6 linked regions of the Homo sapiens genome follow. The gene in region 2 interacts genetically with the main gene of each other region. Each region holds a gene or a part of one and is shown on either strand. Other genes may lie near its edges.

The links.
Region 1: changes in KCNQ4 (region 2) and CAMK1D together harm fitness less than expected from each alone (positive genetic interaction), as found in Homo sapiens cells (one large-scale study listed by BioGRID).
Region 3: changes in KCNQ4 (region 2) and NT5M together harm fitness more than expected from each alone (negative genetic interaction), as found in Homo sapiens cells (one large-scale study listed by BioGRID).
Region 4: changes in KCNQ4 (region 2) and CYP4F12 together harm fitness more than expected from each alone (negative genetic interaction), as found in Homo sapiens cells (one large-scale study listed by BioGRID).
Region 5: changes in KCNQ4 (region 2) and HCRT together harm fitness more than expected from each alone (negative genetic interaction), as found in Homo sapiens cells (one large-scale study listed by BioGRID).
Region 6: changes in KCNQ4 (region 2) and CSF1R together harm fitness less than expected from each alone (positive genetic interaction), as found in Homo sapiens cells (one large-scale study listed by BioGRID).

What each region holds. Positions count from the first base shown.
Region 1 is NC_000010.11:12,825,047-12,828,546, reverse strand, and holds part of CAMK1D (calcium/calmodulin-dependent protein kinase type 1D), read right to left. Parts: intron 2,975-3,500; coding exon 2,857-2,974; coding exon of another isoform or gene 2,822-2,856; exon of another isoform or gene 2,083-2,821; intron 1-2,082. UniProt on the Homo sapiens protein: Calcium/calmodulin-dependent protein kinase that operates in the calcium-triggered CaMKK-CaMK1 signaling cascade and, upon calcium influx, activates CREB-dependent gene transcription, regulates calcium-mediated granulocyte function and respiratory burst and promotes basal dendritic growth of hippocampal neurons.
Region 2 is NC_000001.11:40,782,609-40,786,586, forward strand, and holds the start of KCNQ4 (potassium voltage-gated channel subfamily KQT member 4), read left to right. Parts: upstream 1-1,178; 5' UTR 1,179-1,485; coding exon 1,486-1,799; intron 1,800-3,978. UniProt on the Homo sapiens protein: Pore-forming subunit of the voltage-gated potassium (Kv) channel involved in the regulation of sensory cells excitability in the cochlea. KCNQ4/Kv7.4 channel is composed of 4 pore-forming subunits assembled as tetramers.
Region 3 is NC_000017.11:17,302,234-17,306,172, forward strand, and holds the start of NT5M (5'(3')-deoxyribonucleotidase, mitochondrial isoform 4 precursor), read left to right. Parts: upstream 1-1,139; 5' UTR 1,140-1,317; coding exon 1,318-1,584; intron 1,585-1,615; exon of another isoform or gene 1,616-1,668; intron 1,669-2,130; exon of another isoform or gene 2,131-2,244; intron 2,245-3,939. UniProt on the Homo sapiens protein: Dephosphorylates specifically the 5' and 2'(3')-phosphates of uracil and thymine deoxyribonucleotides, and so protects mitochondrial DNA replication from excess dTTP. Has only marginal activity towards dIMP and dGMP.
Region 4 is NC_000019.10:15,683,087-15,686,586, forward strand, and holds part of CYP4F12 (cytochrome P450 4F12), read left to right. Parts: intron 1-406; coding exon 407-677; intron 678-1,729; coding exon 1,730-1,796; intron 1,797-1,981; coding exon 1,982-2,111; intron 2,112-3,500. UniProt on the Homo sapiens protein: A cytochrome P450 monooxygenase involved in the metabolism of endogenous polyunsaturated fatty acids (PUFAs).
Region 5 is NC_000017.11:42,183,560-42,186,756, forward strand, and holds HCRT (hypocretin neuropeptide precursor precursor), read right to left. Parts: upstream 1,894-3,197; 5' UTR 1,807-1,893; coding exon 1,786-1,806; intron 970-1,785; coding exon 595-969; 3' UTR 501-594; downstream 1-500. UniProt on the Homo sapiens protein: Neuropeptides that play a significant role in the regulation of food intake and sleep-wakefulness, possibly by coordinating the complex behavioral and physiologic responses of these complementary homeostatic functions.
Region 6 is NC_000005.10:150,059,055-150,062,554, reverse strand, and holds part of CSF1R (macrophage colony-stimulating factor 1 receptor isoform a precursor), read left to right. Parts: intron 1-705; coding exon 706-832; intron 833-959; coding exon 960-1,064; intron 1,065-1,582; coding exon 1,583-1,693; intron 1,694-2,692; coding exon 2,693-2,855; intron 2,856-3,500. UniProt on the Homo sapiens protein: Tyrosine-protein kinase that acts as a cell-surface receptor for CSF1 and IL34 and plays an essential role in the regulation of survival, proliferation and differentiation of hematopoietic precursor cells, especially mononuclear phagocytes, such as macrophages and monocytes.

The sequences.
Region 1 (3,500 bases), on a different chromosome or scaffold from region 2:
GCTTCAGCCTCCCGAGTAGCTGGGATTACAGGGGCTCACCACCACGCCGGGCTAATTTTTGTATTTTTAGTAGAGATGGGGTTTCACCATGTTGGCCAGGCTGGTCTCGAACTCCTGACCTCAGGTGATCCACCCACCTCAGCCTCCCAAAGTGCTGGGATTACGGGTGTGAGCCACCGCGCCCAACTTGCGGGGACCCAAATTTTTACCCGTGTGACTATTTTTACCTACCTGTGGGAAAGCCTTTGCAATGGGTTCAAAATGCTTTATTCTTAGACCTCTCCTCTCCTTTTTTTTGGTGTAATTTTAACTGCTTTGTGTTTGAAAACAACATGGTTTCACCACTGTGGTACAACAGGTTCCATGTACTGAGCACTTAATATGTAGCAGGCACCAGGCTAGTGTTGACTACATACTGTCATCATACGAATTGTCCACTTCTTATAATAGCTCTGTAAAGCAGGTATTTTAAGAAGGAATAAAGAATGATACTACCTTCCTACCCTTGGTTGGTGTGTTGTGTACACTCTTGGCTAGAAAGCATTTTGTGACGCAGAGCACTTTGAAATAAGGGTATGGTGGCTGACGCCTGTAATCTCAACACTTTGGGAGGCCAAGGTGGGTGGATCGCTTGAGTCTCAGGAGTTCCAGACCAGCTGGGGCAACCCTGGGTCTACAAAAAATACAAAAATTAGCTGCGCACGGTGGTACATGCCTGTTGTCCCAGCTACTCAGAAGGCTGAGACAGGAGGATTACTTGAGCCTAGGAGGTTGAGGTTGCAGTGAGCCGTGACTGTGCCACTGCACTCCAGTCTGGGTGACAGAGAGTGAGAGAAAGAGAGAAGAAGAGAGAGGAGAGAGGAGAAAGGAGAGGGGAGAAGGGAGAGAGGAGAGAGGAGAGGGGAGAGGGGAGAGAGGAGAGAGGAGAGAGGAGGGGAGGGGAAGGCAGGGCAAGGCAGGGCAGGGCAGGGCAGGTTAGTGGAGGAGAGGAGAAGAAAGACAAGAAAAGAAAGAAAGAAAGAAAGAAAGAAAGAAAGAAAGAAAGAAAGAAAGAAAGAAAGAAAGAAAGAAAGACAGACAGACAAAGAAAGAAAAGAAAGAAAGAAAGAAGGAAGGAAGGAAGGAAAGAAAGAGAGAAAGAAGAAAGGAAGGAAGGAAGGGAAAGAAAAAGAAAGAAAGAGAAAGAAAGAAAGGAAGAAGGAAGGAAGGAAGAGAAGAGAGAGAAAGAAAGAAAAGAAAAAGAGAGAGAAAGAAAGAAAGAAAAAGAAAAGAAAGAGAAGGAAAGAAAAAGAAAGAAAGAAGGGAGGGAGGGAAGGAAAGAAGGAAGGAAAGGAAGGAGGGAGGCAGGGAGGGAAAAGAAAAGAGAGAAGAGAGAGGGAAGGAGGGAAATAAAGGAGGGAAAGAAAAAGAAAGGAAAGCAAAAAGAAAAGAAAAAAGAGCAAGAATAGAGATGTTCACCTATTCCTGTGTGAGCTCAGCAGTCCCTGGCCTAGTGGAGCTCCTCAGAGGCTGCGCTGAAGCCCTCCCCCAGAGGATGTGCAGGCATCAAAAGCCTTGATATGAGAGGCCTCAGCCGCCACTGAGCTTGTTGGTGCAGGCCCCCAGGGAGTCTGTGTGCTCAGACATGGGGACAAACAGCCATACAAGGAGTGCTCCCGACGGGCTTTGCTGCCGATGCCAGTGTATGAATCTGTAAAGAAGGGATCCATCGTGGGGTTCCCTTTGACCAGAGGGTGGAAAAGATTCAGGGTGAAAGGGGAGCTATGGTATGTCAGGGGACACTCACAGAGATTTCTTGGGAAAATTTAAGGGCTGGATGGTCCCAAATGAGATGGGAAGATTCCTTAGAGAGGAAGGGAATCCTTTTCTGAGCCAAATGGGAAGGAGCATGATGCCCAGGGTGAGACCAGGCTGCAGGGCTGCTCCATGGTTAGGGAGATTAGGGCCACTGCTCTGATGTGGAGAGGACCCATGGGAAGGGCCAAACGGGATTATTTCCACAGAGAGAGGAGCAGTTGGGGAGAGAGATAAGGAGAGAGTAAGTGTGCCTTCGATGATGGAATAGCCCATGCAAAGACGAAGGACAATGAAATACTATTACTTTTATTGCAAAGTCAATGCACTTCACATAAATGAGCTCAAATTATCATTGTCTGCATCCAAAATATATACATTATGGAAGTCAATGGCAGGAGGCTGTCCTGAGGCTCTGCTCTCCCTTCCTCAATCCGCAAGAGTGACTGTACAATGAGAGGTAAATCAGAGGGAAGGATGGAGATGAGAAAGAGTCCAGGCCTTTATCCAGACAGACATGGCTGCGAGGACTTGAGCCCTGGATTCCTCAACTGTAAATGGAAATAGCAATACCTAGGGTTCCACGAGTGTTCAATGATTTTTCTTTTTTTTTTTTGAGAGGGAGTCTCAATCTGTCACCCAGGCTGGAGTGCAGTGGTGTGATCTCAGCTCATTGCAACCTCCGCTTCCTGGGTTCAAGTGATTCTCCTGCCTCAGCCTCCCAAGTAGCTGACATTACAGGTGCTCGCCACCACACCCGGCTAATTTTTATATTTTAGTAGAGATGGGGTTTCACCATGTTGGTCAGGCTGGTCTTAAAACTCCTGAACTCAAACAGTCCTCCTGCCTCAGCCTCCCAAAGTGTTGGGATTACAGGCGTGAGCCACTGCACCCAGCCCAGTGATTACATGTTAAAAAAAGTCCTAGGGTCGCATGACATGGGATTAAGTATAGAAAGCGCCTGGCAAACAGGAGGTGCTCGGCAGATGCCGGCTCCCTCCTCTCCACCCCAGGCTCGTCTTCAGTGTCAGCTGAGGGATTCTGGTTTTGCTACATACGCACAGTCTTTTTGGCTGGCCAAACTGAGGCTGCTCGAAACACTTGCATTTGAACTGTCCAGGCTGCTGCCGAGGTGTAGTTTTCTCATATGTCTGACGACGGCCGTGGCATTAAATGCTTGCTGAAATTTCAGAAAGGAAAAAAGCAGACAAATATTTCAGCTAATCGGAAAAGACTCTAACTGTGTTCTCTTGTTTATCACATTAGCCTAAGCATTTCAAACTCCTTACATCATTCTCATGCTACTCAAGAAGGAAAGCTTATGTTGTCCCTTCTTCTAAAAGTGCACTGATTTATTAACCCCTTTCCCCAACTAAATATTTTAGAGACTTAAAATAGTTTTCTTCTGACATCATAAATACATAGAATAAACATAAACCAATTCTCTCTGTAATTTAAGAGATGTGGCCTTTAGAATAAAAGGCATATTATAATACCTTAAAAATGTGAGATTTGAAAATAGTTTTTATTTTCCTAGTATTGGTACTTTTGTCTGAAAGATTTAGGTTGGTGCAAAAGTAATGGCAATTTTAATGGAAGAAACCACAACTACTTTTGCGCCAACCTAATGATAGCATGTCCTATGAATACAGCAGGCCAGCAAAATTAATTTTGTTTCCGTCTCATCTTTCACCATTGGCCCTCAT
Region 2 (3,978 bases):
CTCCCGCTCGGCTTCGTCCCTCGAGATCCTCCCGGAGGAACCGGGAAGAGTTTGCTGCGGAAGGCTCACCCTGGGGCAGGGCCTGCGGAGGGAGCGGCTGGTGTGGCCGCAGCTTTCCGTGGAGGAAGAGGGAAAGAGGATCGGGAAACCCAAGTTACCAACCCTGTGCAGGGCCCAGGAGGGCTAAAGGAGAGGGACTGCCCCCTACAGCCAGAGAGATGGAGGTCGGGGACTAAGAAAAACTTTCCAGCTGGAGAGGGAATGCCCTGGGACAAAGTATCCCCTTTTCTGGCTGGGATTCTGTGGGCCTTGGGTAGGGGGTGTGTGTCCCCTCTAAGGCTGGCTTAGAGCTCATCTCCCAACACTCCATCTGCCCAAACCCAGTTCCCTGACCTGGGAGTGGGGCAGGGGAGCAGGCCCCTCCATCGGGGAGGATCCTCTTCTGGGCAGGGTGGCTCTTCCCCCATCACGATGAAGGGAAGCTCAGAGGTGGCAGTTGGTGGGAGAAAGACACACCCAGGCCCACTGTGTTCCACACACCCTGATGCTGCCTAGCAGCCCGTGGGCTCCAGGCCTTTCAGGTAAGAGCAGGACAACCGCCGCTGCCCACCCAGCCACACACAGCACTGGGCACACTTTAAGCACCCGCACCAGGCACACAGTGCTCGACCCCAACGGACACACCTCATCCCCTTCGGACTCCACCTCCACTTTCGCAGCCACCCACACCCGACCCATAACTCACACCTCACTGACTCCATCCCCGCACCTGGTAGACCCACAGCCACCCACCCTGCACACACAAGTAGACGCCGTTCCACCGGTCTACACCTAAACTCCACGGGACACTGCGTCCCTTCCCCTGCCGCCCGCGGCCACAACTCCACATTCCACTTTCCACAAGCACACACGAGGCGTCCCACCCCGGGCTGGCCTTCGGGGCCACACTGCCCCACGCAGCGGTGGACACCACTTGCACGCGTCCGGCTTCCCGGCCCCGCGCGCTGCCCCCGCCACGCGGTTCGGCCCAGGCACCAACTCGGCCGCCCGTGCGCCCTGCCCCGCCGCCTGCTCCGCGCGTTCCCTCCCTCCGCCTCGCCTCGCTTGCTCGCTCGCTCCCTCCCGATTTGGGAAGGCGGCCGCGGGGCGGGCGGGGGAGGGGCGGGGCGGGGGAGGGTGACATGTGAGCGGCGCGCGCCGGTGGCAGGTGGAAAGGCGAGCGGCATGGAGCGCGTAATAAGAGAGTTGGAGTCGGAAAGAGCAGCCCCAGTCGCCGGGGAAGCGGGAGGTCAGTGCGGGCTCCGGCGGCCCCCAGGCTCCGAGCGCCCGCCCGCGGCCCCGGCCCGGCCCCTAGCCCCCGCCGCCCGCGCCCGCCCCGGGTCGCCCCTCTGGCCCCGGGTCCGAGCCATGCGTCTCTGAGCGCCCCGAGCGCGCCCCCGCCCCGGACCGTGCCCGGGCCCCGGCGCCCCCAGCCCGGCGCCGCCCATGGCCGAGGCCCCCCCGCGCCGCCTCGGCCTGGGTCCCCCGCCCGGGGACGCCCCCCGCGCGGAGCTAGTGGCGCTCACGGCCGTGCAGAGCGAACAGGGCGAGGCGGGCGGGGGCGGCTCCCCGCGCCGCCTCGGCCTCCTGGGCAGCCCCCTGCCGCCGGGCGCGCCCCTCCCTGGGCCGGGCTCCGGCTCGGGCTCCGCCTGCGGCCAGCGCTCCTCGGCCGCGCACAAGCGCTACCGCCGCCTGCAGAACTGGGTCTACAACGTGCTGGAGCGGCCCCGCGGCTGGGCCTTCGTCTACCACGTCTTCATGTGAGTTTGCGACCCCGCGCCCTTCCGCGTTTCCCCGCGCAAGCCTGGCCTCCCGGGGCACGGCCGCCCCGCCCTGGCTCCGCCTTCTACCCCCCTGCCTCAGGGCCGACCCTCATCTCTCTCCCCCCAGGCCTAAGCCCGGTTTCTGATCCCCTCGCTGAGCCCGACCCTAAGCCCTGATCTCCCAGGCCTGACCCCTGCTTGACCTCGCTTCTGACCTCCCCGCACCGCAACTGCTTATTTCCATCCTGACCGCCAATCTCTGCTCCTCTGTCCCAGGTACTCCCGACCGCCAGCTGCCTCCCCCAAGTCCGCTTGGCGAAGTCTGGGGCCCCTGGAGTGGGCGCCCTTTTCCTCTTCCCCACCCCTGCCTCCCTGTGTCCCAGACACAAAGAGGAACCCTTGGCTCCCACACGCTTCTGTCACCTGCTCCCCAGCTCTGAGCTATGAAGGGCTCCCCTCAGGGGTGCTCCTCTCCAGGGCGGCCCTCATTCCTACCCCTGCCCAGCTGACTGTGGGTGTGTGGGGGTCCCTGTGGGCCCCCTGGGCCCTGACACTCGCATATGCTGTGTCCGACTTGATCTGTGTCTTCGCTCAGTCTTCCCCTCCACCCTCAACTTCCCAGTGGCAACGGCGGCCGCCCTGCCTGCCCTGCCCTACCCTGCCGGCTTGGCCCAGCTCGCCTGCCTTGTTGGCTGGCAGCACCAGGCCTGGCTCTAGGCACCAGGGGAAAAAGAAAGAGGAGAGGGGTAGGTTTGGAAACACTGACGCTGCTGGGGCCCCCTCCTCCCTCTCACCAGGCTCCTACAACTTTCAAAAACACTGACCCCTCTTGGGTGTGAAGAGTGAATTTTGGCAGCTCAGAGCTCAGTCTTGGGGTACGGCCTGGCCCAGCCAGGAACATGAGAGGCCCCGCAGATATCAGTTGAAGGGCTGGGCCTGACGCTGGGACGCTCAGAGGTGCCCAGAGAGAGACCTCTGGTCCCTGGAAAATGTGTGGCTATTAATCCCTTTTTGCTGCCACCAGAGAGGGCCCTTTGGCGCTGGGGTCTCCTGGGTGGCCCACCTGCCTGCCCACCTGACTGTCTAGCAGCCCTCCTGCTGGCCTGGCTGTCCCTCTGCCAGCCTGAGTTTCCACCTGTGTGCGAGTTGGCCAGTCTGCTCACCCTTCCACCTAACTGTCCGCAGTCCTTCTGCTTGCCTGTTTCCATCCATCTGTGGCCTGTGCAGTTATCCGGGTGCCTGTCTGTGCATCTGCCTATCCACCTGTCCACCTGACTGTCCACTCTTCCTCTACCTGTCTTTTCCACCTGTCTCTGGGTCTGTCCTTCGGCCTGTTTCTCGGGTGCTTGCTGGCCTGCCTCTGCCCCATCTGAACTGGGCCCACATAATTTCAGAGGTGAAGGGGAGAAAGATGCGGCACAGGGAGGGGCAGGGGGGGAAGACAGCAGGGCTCTCTCGGCCATTAAGTGCGTTGGGGGTGGCAACCTTGACTCTGTGCAGAGACCTCAGCTGGGCTAGGCTGGGGCAGAGAGTTGAAATTGCTCAGGACATGAGGTCAAGCTTCGGTTCAGGGTCAACGGTTTGTAGTAGCCCAGTCCTTAGTGTCCATTGGGAGGCCTAGGATGAATATTTGTGGCTATAAAGAGGCCCGTTGGAGTGAGGAAGGCCCAGGGCTGGTGGAGTTGGGGGTGAGGGGATGGGGACTACTTCTTAGGAGTGGCTACAGAGCAGCCTCCTTGAGTGCCTAAGGAGGGTGAGACACCCCCCAGAGAACAACTGTGCCCTCCGTGGGCTCCTCTTGGGAAGGGACTTTTCCAAGGCATGGCAGGGCCTGGGGAAGCCAATAGGGCTCTGAGGTGGGGTCCTTACCCCCCCAGGCTTGGCCTTACAGCCCCCACAAGGGTCAGTGGAGGTGAAGGACCTGCCTCCTGTCCCCTGGCCAGCTGCTGTTGGTGCCTCCTTTGAAAGGACCGCCCCTTCCTCTCCAGGAGCTAATCCACTGGCACCTTTGCCCCACATCCTGCCCTTTCCTGATGCCAGGAAATGCCCTCGCCAGGGCCGTGCTTGTCCTGACCACTTGTCCCCGGGAGCCCAGGGCCAGGGCATGTCTTGGGAACTCTGGGGGAAGAAGTATGGTGTGAAAGTGTCCTGGTGTTTAAGGATCTCAGGGAATTGG
Region 3 (3,939 bases), on a different chromosome or scaffold from region 2:
ATACCATAGAATACTTCACAGTCATAAAAAAAGAATAAGATCATGTCTTTTGCAGCCATATGGATGGAGCTGGAGACAATTATCCTAAGCAAACACAGGAACAGAAAATTAAATACCTCATGCTCTCACTTAAAAGCGGGAACTAAACATTAAGTAAACATGGACGTAATGATGGGGACAACAGACACGGTGACCTACTTGAGGGTGGAGAGTGGGAGGAGGGTGAGGATGGAAAAACTACCTATCAGGAACTACGCTTATTACCTGGGTAATAATAATCTGTACACTAAACCCCCAAGACAGTCAATTTATATAACAAATCTGCACATGTATCCCTGTACTTAAAAGTTGAAAAGAGGCCGGGCGCGGTGGCTCACGCCTGTAATCCCAGCACTTTGGGAGGCTGAGGTGGGAGGATCGTTTGAGCCCAACATAGGAAGACTCCTGTCTCAAAAAAAAAAAAAAAAAAAAAAAAATTACCAGGGTGTGGTGGCAGGCCCCTGTGGTCCCAGCTACTCAGGAGGCAGAAGCAGGACGATCCCTTGGGCCCAGAAACTCAAGGCTGCAGGGAACCGAGATCATGCCACTGCTTCCACCCTGGGTAACAGAGCAAGACCCCGTCTCCAAAAAAAAAAAAAAAAAAAAGCAATACAGGGGTACTTAATATTTATTCATATATTTACCTGAGAATCATCAGTTTTACTAAGGCTGTATGATGTTAGCAGATATTGGTTCTATCAGTCTCTCCGCAGACATTTGCTGTAAATAAAGCAGAGAGGCTTTCAGAGTGCACCCTGTTTTTGTTCCTCCATCCTGTTGTCTGGATCCCCTTCTAAAACGTAAGTTCCAGGATGGCAGGAACTTTGTCTATTTGGTTCACACTCGACACAGTTAGTGCTCAAAAATGTCTAACGACACAGGCCTGCTTCTCGGTTTGCACTGCTCCTCCATGGTAGTCTGTGCAGTGGGAGAAGGCAGCCCGGGCCCAGGGTCCACGGAGAAGACGCAAATCGACAGCGCGGGAGCGCGGACCTTCTGGAGGCGCGCGGCGCTTACCGCTGTCCGTCCTCGAAGCCCCGCCCCGGGGCTCCGCCTCCGCCGGCGCGTGTTCCTTTAGGGACCGCGCGCGCCGCGGCCTCGCTCTGGGGCCGGTACTTGCGCGCCCGCACCCCGCGCTCCCCGCCCCGCTCCCCGTCCCGCGCTCCACGCGCGCCCCAGCGTTGGGGGCTTCTCCTCCGCGGCGGGAATGTCTGGCCGGCTCCGGCAGCACGGCGCGGCCCAGGTCCCCGCGCCCACGACGGGCCAGCGCGCTGGGCCATGATCCGGCTGGGCGGCTGGTGTGCGCGGCGGCTCTGCAGCGCGGCGGTTCCCGCGGGGCGGCGCGGGGCGGCGGGCGGGCTGGGCCTGGCGGGAGGCCGCGCCCTACGGGTGCTGGTGGACATGGACGGCGTGCTGGCTGACTTCGAGGGCGGATTCCTCAGGAAGTTCCGCGCGCGCTTTCCCGACCAGCCCTTCATCGCGCTGGAGGACCGGCGCGGCTTCTGGGTGTCGGAGCAGTACGGCCGCCTGCGGCCAGGGCTGAGCGTGAGCGTCCCCGCCCCGCCCCGCGCCGGGCCTCCTTCTCGCCCCGAGCCCCAGACACCGCCCCTGCGCCGGTGACCTTGGACGGTCAGCGCCCCAGCCTCGGGGTGGCCCTCTGATAGAATAGGGTCTGGGGGGGACTAGGGGCCACAGCGCACCGGGAAGATGCGGCCCCGCGCTCAGGATCTGTTGGCTGCCATCCAAGGTTTCTGAAAATGCGGGAGAGTACAAAGTGTTAATATACCTAACTCTGCATTTAAAGCTGACTTCAAAATTTGTGGCATATTTGGCCTCAAGTCGTTTGTTAAATTTTTAGAAAAATAAACGTTATAAGTTGTCCTCTTTCACCCCGACCGCAGTCACATTCCCACTTCTTTGTCCCCAGGACTTTGATGGGTGTCTTTACCCATCTTTTTTACTGTTGTCCATGAAAGCATAGCTTCCAGGGGTATTTGAGGCCCAGAGAGGTTGTGTGACTTTCTGGGGGTCACACAGTGAGTCAGTGGTCCAGGTGAGGTGGGATCCACCTCATGTCTTATCCCCTTGCAGAGCTGGCCTTGCTGAACACCTGAGCTCAACCCCTACCATCCGACTCCCGAGGTGTTCTGTCCAGGATGGATAGAGGGGAAAGATCCAAGGAGGGACGTTTACACACAGATCTTGGTTGGTAAATTTGAAGTATTTTGCAAAAGGAACAGGGGATTTTGGTATGCACAAAATTAAAGAGGCTGAGTGTTTTTTGGCATCCCTTGATTGGCCACCTAGGGTTGCTGCTGGAGGGTTTGATAAAGAGGAGAAGGAAGTTACAAGAGCCCGTTTTTTAGCCACAAGTTCACTGCATCCTCTCTTTTGTTGGGTAGATATTATTATCTCTGTTTTCCAGATGAGGAAACTTGCCCCAAGTCACATGCTGCTCAGGGGCTCAGTCAGGACTCAAACCCAAGTCTGTCTGCCTCCCAAGCACAGTTAGTGCTCCCCACTCCACAGTCCTGTTCTCTGTACTACTGTCTCTAACAAGTGACATTTCTTCTGACATCAGAAAGATGCCTCATCAGTAATGTGGTTTGTTGAGGGACAGGTGTTAAAAAAGGAAACCAAGTACCGTTTGTCTCCATCAACACCAGGCACTTCAGAAGGTGACTTTCACAGAGCCCAGTGTGCTGAGCTCTTCTACAGCGGATGCCTAATGATAAACTTTAAACTGGAGAAAATGCCCTGGTACTTTCTGCAGCCTCAGGAATAGGCTCCAGTGTGTGGCGAGTGTTCATTTATAGGCAGCGCTCGGCATGGGGAGTCTGGACACCATATATCCGCCCGGGAGTGTATTAACGTGGAAACCAAGCCCACCCCCAACTCCGAAAAGTGCAGCAGCTTTTCCAGTTCTTTGTGCAAATATGTAGGCTCTGTACGTGTGGGGTTACTGGTTTCCAAGCACAAGGCAAAGGCACGGGGCAGTAAGGAGGGTGCCTTGGGAGTAATCTGCTGGCTTCCACTACTTCCCTTCCTGAGGCACGGCTTGCTGCTGTGGACATCCCTGGGCCTACCCCAAGCTGGCCCAGTATCTGTGGTTAAAACAACCGCCCCCCCCCCCCCGCCCCCACACACGTGGCTCCTTATGTGTATGTAGGCATTTCTACTTTTCAAAATTCTGCTCTGTCTGTATTCCCTTTGGTCTTCACAGTACCCTATGTGGGATGTGAGGATCAAATGTGTTTCAGTAATAAGCACGCATTTGCCTAGTCCCTGTGGTTCCTGAGAGTGTTGCTGGTATGCTGTCAGGGCATCCTCCGGCCGTCCATGTGACAGGGTGGCTGTCTTTCTGTAGTGTGCAGAACAGCTGGTAGAGGCACTTCCTGTACTGCACACGTGGGATTTAGGCTCCTGCTCATAGGCTGAGATGTGTCTCCCCTCTGGTTGTCACTTTCCCCTTGCCTGACCCTAGAAAAGGTGCTGCATTCTGGCCCTGCAGCAGAACAGGGGAAGGAGAAAGGCAGCGGGGGTTGGGGAGTGGGGAGGAGAGGGTTGGTGTTGGGGGTTCTTCTCCCAGCTCAGCTGCTGTTTTGCTGTGTGACATCAGGTGGATCTCTTCCCCGTTCTGAGCCTCAGTTTTCTGACATGTAAAATGAGGGTCTGCATTTTTGCTTTGCAACTCTAAAAGCAGCAGAATCCTTTTTTTAAAAATGTACTTATTGGCACCTCAACATATAAAACCGATAAAAGCAGAGCTCTTCTGGTTAATGTGGGGAGGATCCTCGAGCTCCCTGAATTGTCCTTTTACCCTGTCTCCCCCTCCCCCTTGTCCCTCATGGCACCTTAAAGATCTCTGAGTCCCTCCAGTTCTCAAGTTTAAGGACTCTA
Region 4 (3,500 bases), on a different chromosome or scaffold from region 2:
AGAGACAGAGAGAGAGAGAGAGAAAGAGAGAGAGAGTTGGTTATGCTGGGGGCTGGAGCAGGGCTGAACTGGAAGAGGATGAAGTCTGAGTTGTGTGGACAGTTTTGGTAAGGAAAATGATCAGTACTGCATACTGGATGGGAGACAGAGGAGAGAAGCATGGTGTCCAAGCTATACTCTAGGTGCCTAGGTGCATGGAGACAGCTCTCTCAGAGATAGGATGCAGGGAGAGAAGACAGTCTAGAGAGTCAGTCTCATGACTGATACCCACCATGTATCTCTAGGACCATCTATTTCTAGATACTCAGTTTCCTGATGGGAGGTAGCTCCTGGCTGCTGGTGGGAGGTGTTCCTGGGGCTTTGCATACGTTACATTGTTGCCTCCCTTTCTGCCCTTGCTCTGCAGGAGGCCCAGTGAATATATTGCCACCATCTTGGAGCTCAGTGCCCTTGTAGAGAAAAGAAGCCAGCATATCCTCCAGCACATGGACTTTCTGTATTACCTCTCCCATGACGGGCGGCGCTTCCACAGGGCCTGCCGCCTGGTGCATGACTTCACAGACGCTGTCATCCGGGAGCGGCGTCGCACCCTCCCCACTCAGGGTATTGATGATTTTTTCAAAGACAAAGCCAAGTCCAAGACTTTGGATTTCATTGATGTGCTTCTGCTGAGCAAGGTAGGTTTCTCTATGATCTGAATTTAGGTGAGAGAATAGAGCTTCATGTCAAATGTCAGGTGAAATAAATTGGTTTTGATCCAAAGGGCACTGGGAGCCATGGAAGATGCTTGAGAAAGGGAAGGTCACAGATAGGTTTTAGAGATGACTTTATTGCATGCAGCCCACAGGGCACTGCTAATTCTGAAACTGTGAGGAGCATGATATTTTATTCAACTTATAAGTTAGTGTGTTAGTCTTTCACATTTTTATGTGTATCTATATGTCTATGTCTTTGTCTATGTCTGTATCTATGATAAAAGATGCACCAAACCCCTGGATCACAGCAGCCCATTAATTATTTACAGCAGTAACAGCAGGTGGAGTAGGATGGTAGTGCTGGCTCCCCATTCCTAGGGCAACACAATGTTTTTACCTGTAAATGCACAAGAATTTGCACCAAGGAGAGGGGCCCCCACATTATGAGTATTATAGCTTATATAGGACAGCTAGCTCATATGCTCCTTCTTTATTACAGGGTGAAAGTTAGAGACAGAGAAAGAGAGAGAGAGAGAATGCTTTGTTCTGGCGTATAAACTACCCCTCTCCTGTGAGATGGCAATTTCTAGAGTTTTATAACCCAAATATCTTCTGGAAAGATAAGATTCTCTGGGTTTACCACTCTAGAATGTCAGCAAATATTTTTGGAGCAATACATAATTTCTAACCTCCAAGGCAAATTGCCATTCAAATATCCTGTACCCCAGGTTGCCAGTATCTTTTTCTCTGAAAGTCTGTATTATGCAGAAAAATGAAAATATTCGAGAACCATTGATTCCTGTCACCAGGGTCCAAAGAGGAGGCAAAGGATCTGGGGGAAGCCCTTGGAGTTGGGGCTTTGGTGATGGTGAACAAGAGAGATCTAGACGTGCAGAGTGCATTTGAGTTTCTGGAAGATCAGAGCTTCAGAGATTATCTCAGGTTAGACTCCGGAGTCTCAGAGATAGTATAATTTGTGTGTGTGTGTGTGTGTGTGTGTGTGTGTGTGTGTGTGTGTCTTGCTTTCTCTTCAGGATGAAGATGGGAAGGCATTGTCAGATGAGGATATAAGAGCAGAGGCTGACACCTTCATGTTTGGAGGTGAGGGTCCCAGTGTGGGACTACAGTGGAGACAGAGGTCCCTCCATCTCAGGATCCGGGTGGGTGGACCCTGGATCACTCCATTCTGCCCATCTTCCCCCTCCCTCCATCCTCCTGAGGGCCTCAATATCTGGGCGCTGTCCACCCTCCGGTGCTGAAGCCAAGCTTACCTGGCTGCTCCTCAGGCCATGACACCACGGCCAGTGGCCTCTCCTGGGTCCTGTACAACCTTGCGAGGCACCCAGAATACCAGGAGCGCTGCCGACAGGAGGTGCAAGAGCTTCTGAAGGACCGCGATCCTAAAGAGATTGAATGGTGAGTGCAAGTTCTTCTGGCCTGTTCCTGAGCCCATCATTGGTTCTGCTCCCCAAGTGAGGAGGGGTGGAGGAGTTGTTTTGTGGATTCTTCCACTATTGCTTAGTGGGTATAAAAGCAGAGGACCACAGGCAGGGCTTGATACCAAGCCTGGCTGTCAGGGGAAAAGTTGCAGGCCTTTAGGACCGAAAGACCCGGGCTGCTAAGAGAATTGGTGACAATGTGTGAGGACAGATAATGCTACTTTGCACATGTTCAGCAAATGAACTTCCCCTCCACTCTGTTTCTGTTCTCCCAGAAATATCAGTTTTTTCGAAAATCCTCACTTCTTGAATGTTTGCTCAGGTGGGGAGGGAGAAGTTGTTTTTGTCAATTCTTCCATTATTGCTTAGTAGTACTAGGAGCAGAGCACAGAGGCAGAACTTGGTATCCAACCTGGCTAGCAGGGGAAAGTTTTCAGACTTTTGGGACAGAGAGTCCTAGCCCGCTGAGAGAACTAAGGACAATATATGAAGGCAGACGATGACATCTAGACATGTTCAGTCAATGAATTTTCCCTTCACTCCTTTCTTGTTTACTCTGAATTATCATATTTTTTTCAAACATCTTTACTTCCTGAATGTTTACTCTTCTGTTCCCTAATTCCTACCCTCCGGTCCAGTCCAGGGAGTCCTAAGGGAGACCTGGGGGTAAAAGTCATCTATCTTTTGTCTAGAACACCTGCATCGTTCATCCATTCAGTCTTCATTCAGCAAACTCTTCCACATGCCTTTCCATTGCCAGTTCTGTTCCCACACCTTTCTGTGCTCTGGAGACCTGGAAAGAACCCTGCCTATGGATGTGTTTTCCAGGTACTCCCAGCCTAGTAGGAACAGTCCCCCACAAGACATTCCCAGTCCACATAGGCAAGGATGGAGTTGAGAGCAAGAGAAGCATGGCTGGGAGTACAGAAAGTGTGATAGAAAGTGTTTCAAGCCAGATCTGGTGGCTGTCGCTTGTGATACCAAGTACCGAGGAGGCTGAAGTGGGATAATCACTTGAGGTCAGGTTTAAGATCAACCTGGGCAATATAGAAAGAACCCATTTCTAAAAAAGTAAAAAACCAAAATAATAAAGTGCCTCAACTGAAACCCTGAATGGTGATCAGTAGGTGTTTGGATGCAGTAGTGCCCTAGGTCAAAAAGAAAGTCTGGGCAAAAATGCAAAAAGAGGGAGCAGGAGAGAGGGAGAAGAGGGAAAGAGAGGTTTGTGTGTCAGGGAAGGAGATGGTTATAAAGGGAGGGAGAAGTAAGAGGGAGGAAAAGTGAGGGAGAGCAAGATAAAGAGAGGAGGGAAGACAGAAGGAGACAGAGAGAGAATGAGAGAGAAAGGAACTGAGTTGTGATGAGA
Region 5 (3,197 bases), on a different chromosome or scaffold from region 2:
TATGGCTCAAACTCAAACTCCTGGGCTCAAGCAATCCTCTCGCCCACCATACCCCGCTAATTAAAAAAACTTTTTGGAGAGATGTCTCACTCACTATGTTGCCTAGGCTCGTCTCGAACTCCTTGCTTCAAGGGATCCTCCTGCTTTGGCCTCCCAAAGTGCTGGGATTACAGGCGTGAGCACCGCGCCCGACCGCTGCAACCTTTCTTGCTTTCCTTCCCCTTCCGCGTCTCTGGGTAAAGTCCCCGCTACAGAATGCCTAGCAGAGCATCGTAGGAGTCCCGCATGGCCCGATCCAAGCATGCACCTGTGCAGTTCTCTCTGTGCCCCAGGGCCTTGCACTGGGAACTCCCCAACCAAGAGTGTTTCCGATTCAACCACGCAAAAGCTAAGGCTGGTGCCCGACAGCCGGGCTTCCAGGCCCAGCTGTCCTCCGCAAGACGCTTTGCCACCCCGGATGGGCAGGACGCGACCGCACAGGAACAGAGACCAGTCACACGAATGGAGACTCGTCTTTATTGCCTTTTTTCTGGGGGCTGACGCTGGGTGGGCAGAGGGCAGAGGCCTGGGCCAGGACAGGGCCCGAAGAACGACTCAGATCCCGGACTGTCCTCCGGGCGCGACGGAGGCGGCGGCCGGGGCGGAACAGCGGCGCCCGAGGCAGGGGCGCGGCGCTGGCTCTGCGCCTGCGCGGCGGCCCATGGTCAGGATGCCCGCGGCGTGGTTGCCGCTGGCCTGCAGGAGGCGCTGCAGCCGACCCTGGAGGCCCGGGGGCCCGGACCTCCGCTTGCCCAGCGTGAGGATGCCGGCCGCGTGATTGCCCGCGCCGTGCAGCAGCTCGTAGAGGCGGCAAGAGCAAGTCTTTTGACGACAGCAGTCGGGCAGGGGCTGTGCAGCCGCCCCGGACGACAACAGCGCGGGCGGCAGCAGCAGCAGCAGCAGCAGTAGCGTCACGGCGGCCCAGGAGACCTAGGGAGACGGAGACAGGGCGCTGGGGGGGTCTTCCCACGGCGCCCGCCACCAGCTCCCACGCCCAGGACCTGCCCCTCTGGCTCCGCGCCCCCTCCAAGCCTGCACTCCTTTCTGGCTGTCACTTAGTTCTCCTTGCTTTGCGCCCTTGCTGGTATCGGCCTACTTTCCCTGCTCCTCCTTCAAGACCCAGCAGAGCATCTCCCCCAGGAAGCCTTTTGAGACCCCCTGGGCAGAGTGAATCCCCCTTTTCTCTGGAGACTTAGGCCACTGTGCCACCACTAGGGCACTTGCCACTCCACCTGAAAACAGGAGTGTCTGTCTGCAGCAGAAGTTGTAAACTTGGGAAAAACCCGGGCCCTACTGAGTCCCCCCAACTTCCTCTCCACAGCAGGGAAACACATGGAAATCAGGAACTAGCAAGACTCCAGAATGCTCTCTCATCTGCCTGCCCCCTTGCAGGAGTGACTGAACTCCGTTGCTTTGAACCAGTTTCCTGCCCTTTCAGAGGGCACAGCTCCCTTACCTGTAAACTGGGTATACTAGAAATAATTTCTACTCTGCAAGGCTGTTGGGAGGATGACAAGAGATGACAGGTGCAAACGGAGCACCTGACACATAGAGCTCAGCAAACACAGGCTCTTAGCAAAACAGCACCCAACCCAATGTGAGCCAAGGCAGGTGCTCCTGCCTCAGAGCACACCCAGGAAAAGACCAAGAGTGGAGACACCTTTGGCCTTTCTTCCAGCCCTCTGAGCAAGCACTCTTTTTGCTTCTCTGGGATGGTGAGTCACCCCTCCATCCCTGGATCTTTACCTTTGTGGAAGGAAGGTTCATGGTGTCTGGCGCTCAGGGTGGGGTAGCCGGGAAAGGAGATGTCTGTGGTGGTTCAAAAAGCCAGGAACCTTGAGGCTGTCAATTGTGACCCACTCCCAGGGGTCTGGGGTTTATAGTGCTCTGAGGTGGCGGGGAATTGACAGGCACTTGCGTCCACACCCAGGCCAGACAAAGGCAAGTCTAAGATTAGCCTGCTGCAGGGGGGCCGTCTCCAGGCTGGGCCCAAGGAATGGCCGCTGCGGCGTTCAGAGGCCAGGGTTGGATCACTGTGCCCCTGATCACCCCCTTGTCTGTCTATCTGCTCCCTGGAGATGGGGCGGTCTCCGGGCACTAATGAGGCCACCTTGCACCCAGGAATCTGGGAGCACAAAAGAGGCGCTGGCCTGGGACAATATGGAGGGAGGCAGCTGCTAATTAGGGGCGGGAGAGAGGCAGACGCGAGACCCCACATTATGTGTGTGGGGGGTGGAGCAGCCAGCAGCAGTCCTCTCCCTCCCCTGCTTCTTGTCGCTGCTCCTGGGGACTGTCAGGCTCCAGGACCTTCTTCCTTCATGGAAAGGCTCCTTAGCTGCCCCCTCCCCCTAGCTTTTTTTCTCCCTTCTGCCCTTTCCACTAGCCTCTGAGATGGAAAACCTTGAAAACTCAGCCTAGACAGTGGGAGGTAAGAAGCCAAAACCAAGCCCAATTTCTCTTTCTTTCTTTTCTGTGTGTGTGTGTGTGACTAAATTTTGGTCTTGTTGCTCAGGCTGGAGTGCAGTGGTATGGTCATCTTGGCTCACTGCAACCTCCGCCTTGGGTTCAAGCGATTCTCCTGCCTCAACCTCCTGAATAGCTCCTGAATAGAATTACAGGCACACGCCACCACAACCAGCTAATTTTTGTATTTTTAATAGAGACAGGGTTTCACCATGTTAGCCAGGGTGGTCTCAAACTCCTGACCTCAAGTGATCCACCCACCTCAGTCTCCAAAAGTGTTGGGATTACAGGCGTGGGCCACTGCACCAGGCCCCCCCGCTTTTTTTTTCTTCCTTCCTTCTTTCCTTCTTCCTTCCTTCCTGCATTTCTTTCTTTCTTTCTCTCTCTCACTCTCTCCCTCTTTCTTTCTTTCTTCTTCTTCTTCTTTTTTTTTTTTTTGAGACGGAGTTTCACTCTTGTTGCCCAGGCTGGAGTGCAATGGCGCAATCTCAGCTCACTGCAACCTCCACCTCCAGGGTTCAAGCAATTCTCCTGCCTCTGCCTTCTGAGTAGCTGGGATTACAGGCATGCGCCACCATGCCTGGCTAATTTTGTATTTTTAGTAGAGACAGGGTTTCTCCATGTTGGTCAGGCTGGTCTGGAACTCCTGACCTCAGGTGATCCGCCTGCCTCAGCCACCCAAAGTGCTGGGATTA
Region 6 (3,500 bases), on a different chromosome or scaffold from region 2:
ATTATGCTGGGTGAAATAAGGCAATCTCAATAGACACATGCTGTGTGAGTCCACTGAGGTGCAGTGCCTAGAGCAGTGCAATTCACAGAGACAGCAGAATCATGGTTGCCAGGGGCTGGAGGAGGGAAAGGGGAGTTGCTTTTTAACAGGAACAGAATTTCAGTTTTGCAAGATGAAAAGAGCTCTGGAAACTGGTTGCACAAGGTAGAATGTAATTTACTTAATACTACTGAACCATACACTTAAAAATGGTTGAAATGGTAAATTTCATGTATGTTTTATCACAATTAAAATATATATATATATTTGGATGGGAGGTTGGGTGGGTGGATGGATGGGTAGATGGATGGACAGATGAACGGATGGATAAGATCTCAAGTTCCACCCTCCCTCCTGGCTCAGGAATTACCAGATTATCAGAGATATCAGGGCCCTCAGAGGTTGTCTTGTCCAAGGTCTTCAATACACAAATAGTGAAACAGGCTTGGAGAAGGGAAGGTCACACAACAAGGCAGAGTCAAGCAGGAACATGCTCTCAGTGCTATGTTCATGAGACGACCTCTCTCAGCCCAGAGCAGGCCTTGCCCTGCCTTCTCCCACTGGGCGCCTTGGGACTGCCCACACCCCTGCTCTTGGGGGTCAGAAACAAGGTCCAGGAACTGCCTGCCAGCCCCGACTGCCACGTGCTCCCTTCCTCTTCTGCAGAAGCCCAAGTACCAGGTCCGCTGGAAGATCATCGAGAGCTATGAGGGCAACAGTTATACTTTCATCGACCCCACGCAGCTGCCTTACAACGAGAAGTGGGAGTTCCCCCGGAACAACCTGCAGTTTGGTGAGATGGCAGCTCATCACTCCACAGCTTCCTATCACAGGGCCTGTGGGGGTTGCAGGGAGCCCATGGGCCCTTGGACAGAGGCCCTTTGGTGCCCAGGGACTTAAGGGACCTGTGTGCGTGGCAGGTAAGACCCTCGGAGCTGGAGCCTTTGGGAAGGTGGTGGAGGCCACGGCCTTTGGTCTGGGCAAGGAGGATGCTGTCCTGAAGGTGGCTGTGAAGATGCTGAAGTGTGAGTGAGGGGAGGGGATGAGGGAAGGGATGGGGGGTGGTAGATGCTGGGGGTGGGCTGGCCCTGGTGTCACAAGAGGCATCACACACATTTCAACCTGTTGAAGCCTGGGGGACAGAGCTCAGGGGTGAGGACTTGGGTTTTCTTGTGAGCTCCAGGCACCCTCTGACTCCCGGCTCCAAGAAGGTCTAGGTCACCCTTTAGTTGTGAAGGGGCTCCTGACTGAGCTCCAAAAAGTCTGGGGGTGCAGAAAGGCCACCTATGGCCATGGCCTGGCCACAGTTTGGCTTCCTGTCACCTGAAGACCAGCTCAGTGACAGGCTCATCCCTCCTCTCTCTCTCTCTGCCATCTGTGTGTCTGCATTTTTCCTTCTCCTTCTTTTGGCTTCTGGTCACTCCGGGTCTTGGGGTATGCCCTGCTTTCTCCCCTGGGTCTCTGCATTTGGTCCCCATGTATCTGTGTGGTGCTCTCTGTCCTGCCCTCTCCCTGTCTTTGGGACTGTGGTTCTTCCTCCCAGCCACGGCCCATGCTGATGAGAAGGAGGCCCTCATGTCCGAGCTGAAGATCATGAGCCACCTGGGCCAGCACGAGAACATCGTCAACCTTCTGGGAGCCTGTACCCATGGAGGTAAGGGCCTTGGGGTTCCTGGGGCCAAGGTCTTGGGGCCTCTGGGGAATCTCAGGGCCCCAGGGCTACCTTGTTCCGTCTTCTCCTTCTCAGGATCCTACTGCTCCAAGTGTCAGGGGGATCCCGGTCACAGCATCCCTTAAACTCCTGGGCCCATCTCCTGGAATAGTCAGGAGCTGCACGGGCAGCTTGAGGTATAAAGAGAGACTGATAGGGAGCATCGGAGCCCTTGGAGGAGGAGATGAATGTGCAAGCTCCTAGGCCCTGCTTCCAGGGAGCCGGATCCTCTGGGTCTGGAGTGAAGCCCCCCGCCTACCTCTTATGAAGCTTCCATTCAAGGATGCTTGGACACTCTCCCCAGGGCCCCCAAAGGTGCCCCGGGCTTTGCTGGGACTCCAAGTGCCCCACATCCTCTTCACTGATAGCAGCTCTGACCTACAGTGAGCCGCCATAGCTTTCCTTTGAAGAAATAATTCTTGGGCTACATTTTTTTTAAGGTTGTCTTTTTTTTTTCATTTTTTGTTTTTTTTTTCTTGAGACGGAGCCTCACTCTGTCACCCAGGCTGGAGTGCAGTGGTGCGATCTCGGCTCACTGCAACCTCTGCCTCCCAGGTTCAAGCAATTCTCCTGCCTCAACCTCCTGAGTAGTTGGAACTACAGGCACATGCCACCATGCCCGGCTGATTTTTTTGTATTTTTGTAGAGATGGGGTTTCACCATGTTAGCCAGGATGGTCTCGATCTCCTGACCTCGTGATCCACCCACCTTGGCCTCCCAAAGTGCTGAGATTACAGGCATGAGCCACCGTGCCCCGCCAAAGCCATCTGTTTTAAACAAATGGAACTACTGAGGCACAAGGAAACTTGCTCACAGAGCCGAGGTTAGAACTCAGCTATGCTGAGTCCAAGTCCAGTGGCCTCACTGCCCCCAGTCTCATGCTCCTGTTCATGGAGGGGAGCACTCAGCACCTCCCTCACCCCACACCCTTGGCTGCTCTAGGCCCTGTACTGGTCATCACGGAGTACTGTTGCTATGGCGACCTGCTCAACTTTCTGCGAAGGAAGGCTGAGGCCATGCTGGGACCCAGCCTGAGCCCCGGCCAGGACCCCGAGGGAGGCGTCGACTATAAGAACATCCACCTCGAGAAGAAATATGTCCGCAGGTAGCCCCTGGCAAAGGACAAGAAAAAGGCCAGGTCTGGGAGGCAGGATCCGAGTCTGTCTTCAAAGCCAGCTCAGGGTTGGATGGCTCATGAATGGGTGGCTATGCAGCCCTCACCTGCCACCTGTGTCATGGGAAGTAGCCACCACAGGTTTTATGGCCATCTCTTGTTTCTCTACTCCTTTTCCCCTTCATTCAACAAATATTTGAACACCTACCGTGTTCTGGGAGTGTGGAGGGCAAAGATGGGCAGCTCATAATCTGGTGGAGATATGCATCAATGAAATCACCACCCAGTGTGTGTAAAAGATCAACCAAGATCTGTGCCTGGAGCCCTAGTAAGAGATGGGCAGATGTGGCCGGGTGCAGTGGCTCATGCCTGTAATCCCAGCACTTTGGGAGGCTGAGGCGGGCAGATCACCTGAGGATGGGAGTTCGAGACCAGCCTTACCAACAAGGTGAAACCCCGTCTCTATTAAATATACAAAATTAGCCGGGCGTGGTGGCGCATGCCTATAATCCCAGCTACTCGGGAGGCTGAGGCGGGAGAATTGCTTGAACCCAGGAGGCAGAGGTTGCTGTGAGCTGAGATCACACCATTGCACTCCAGCCTGGGCAACAAGAATGAAACTCCGTCTCAAAAAAA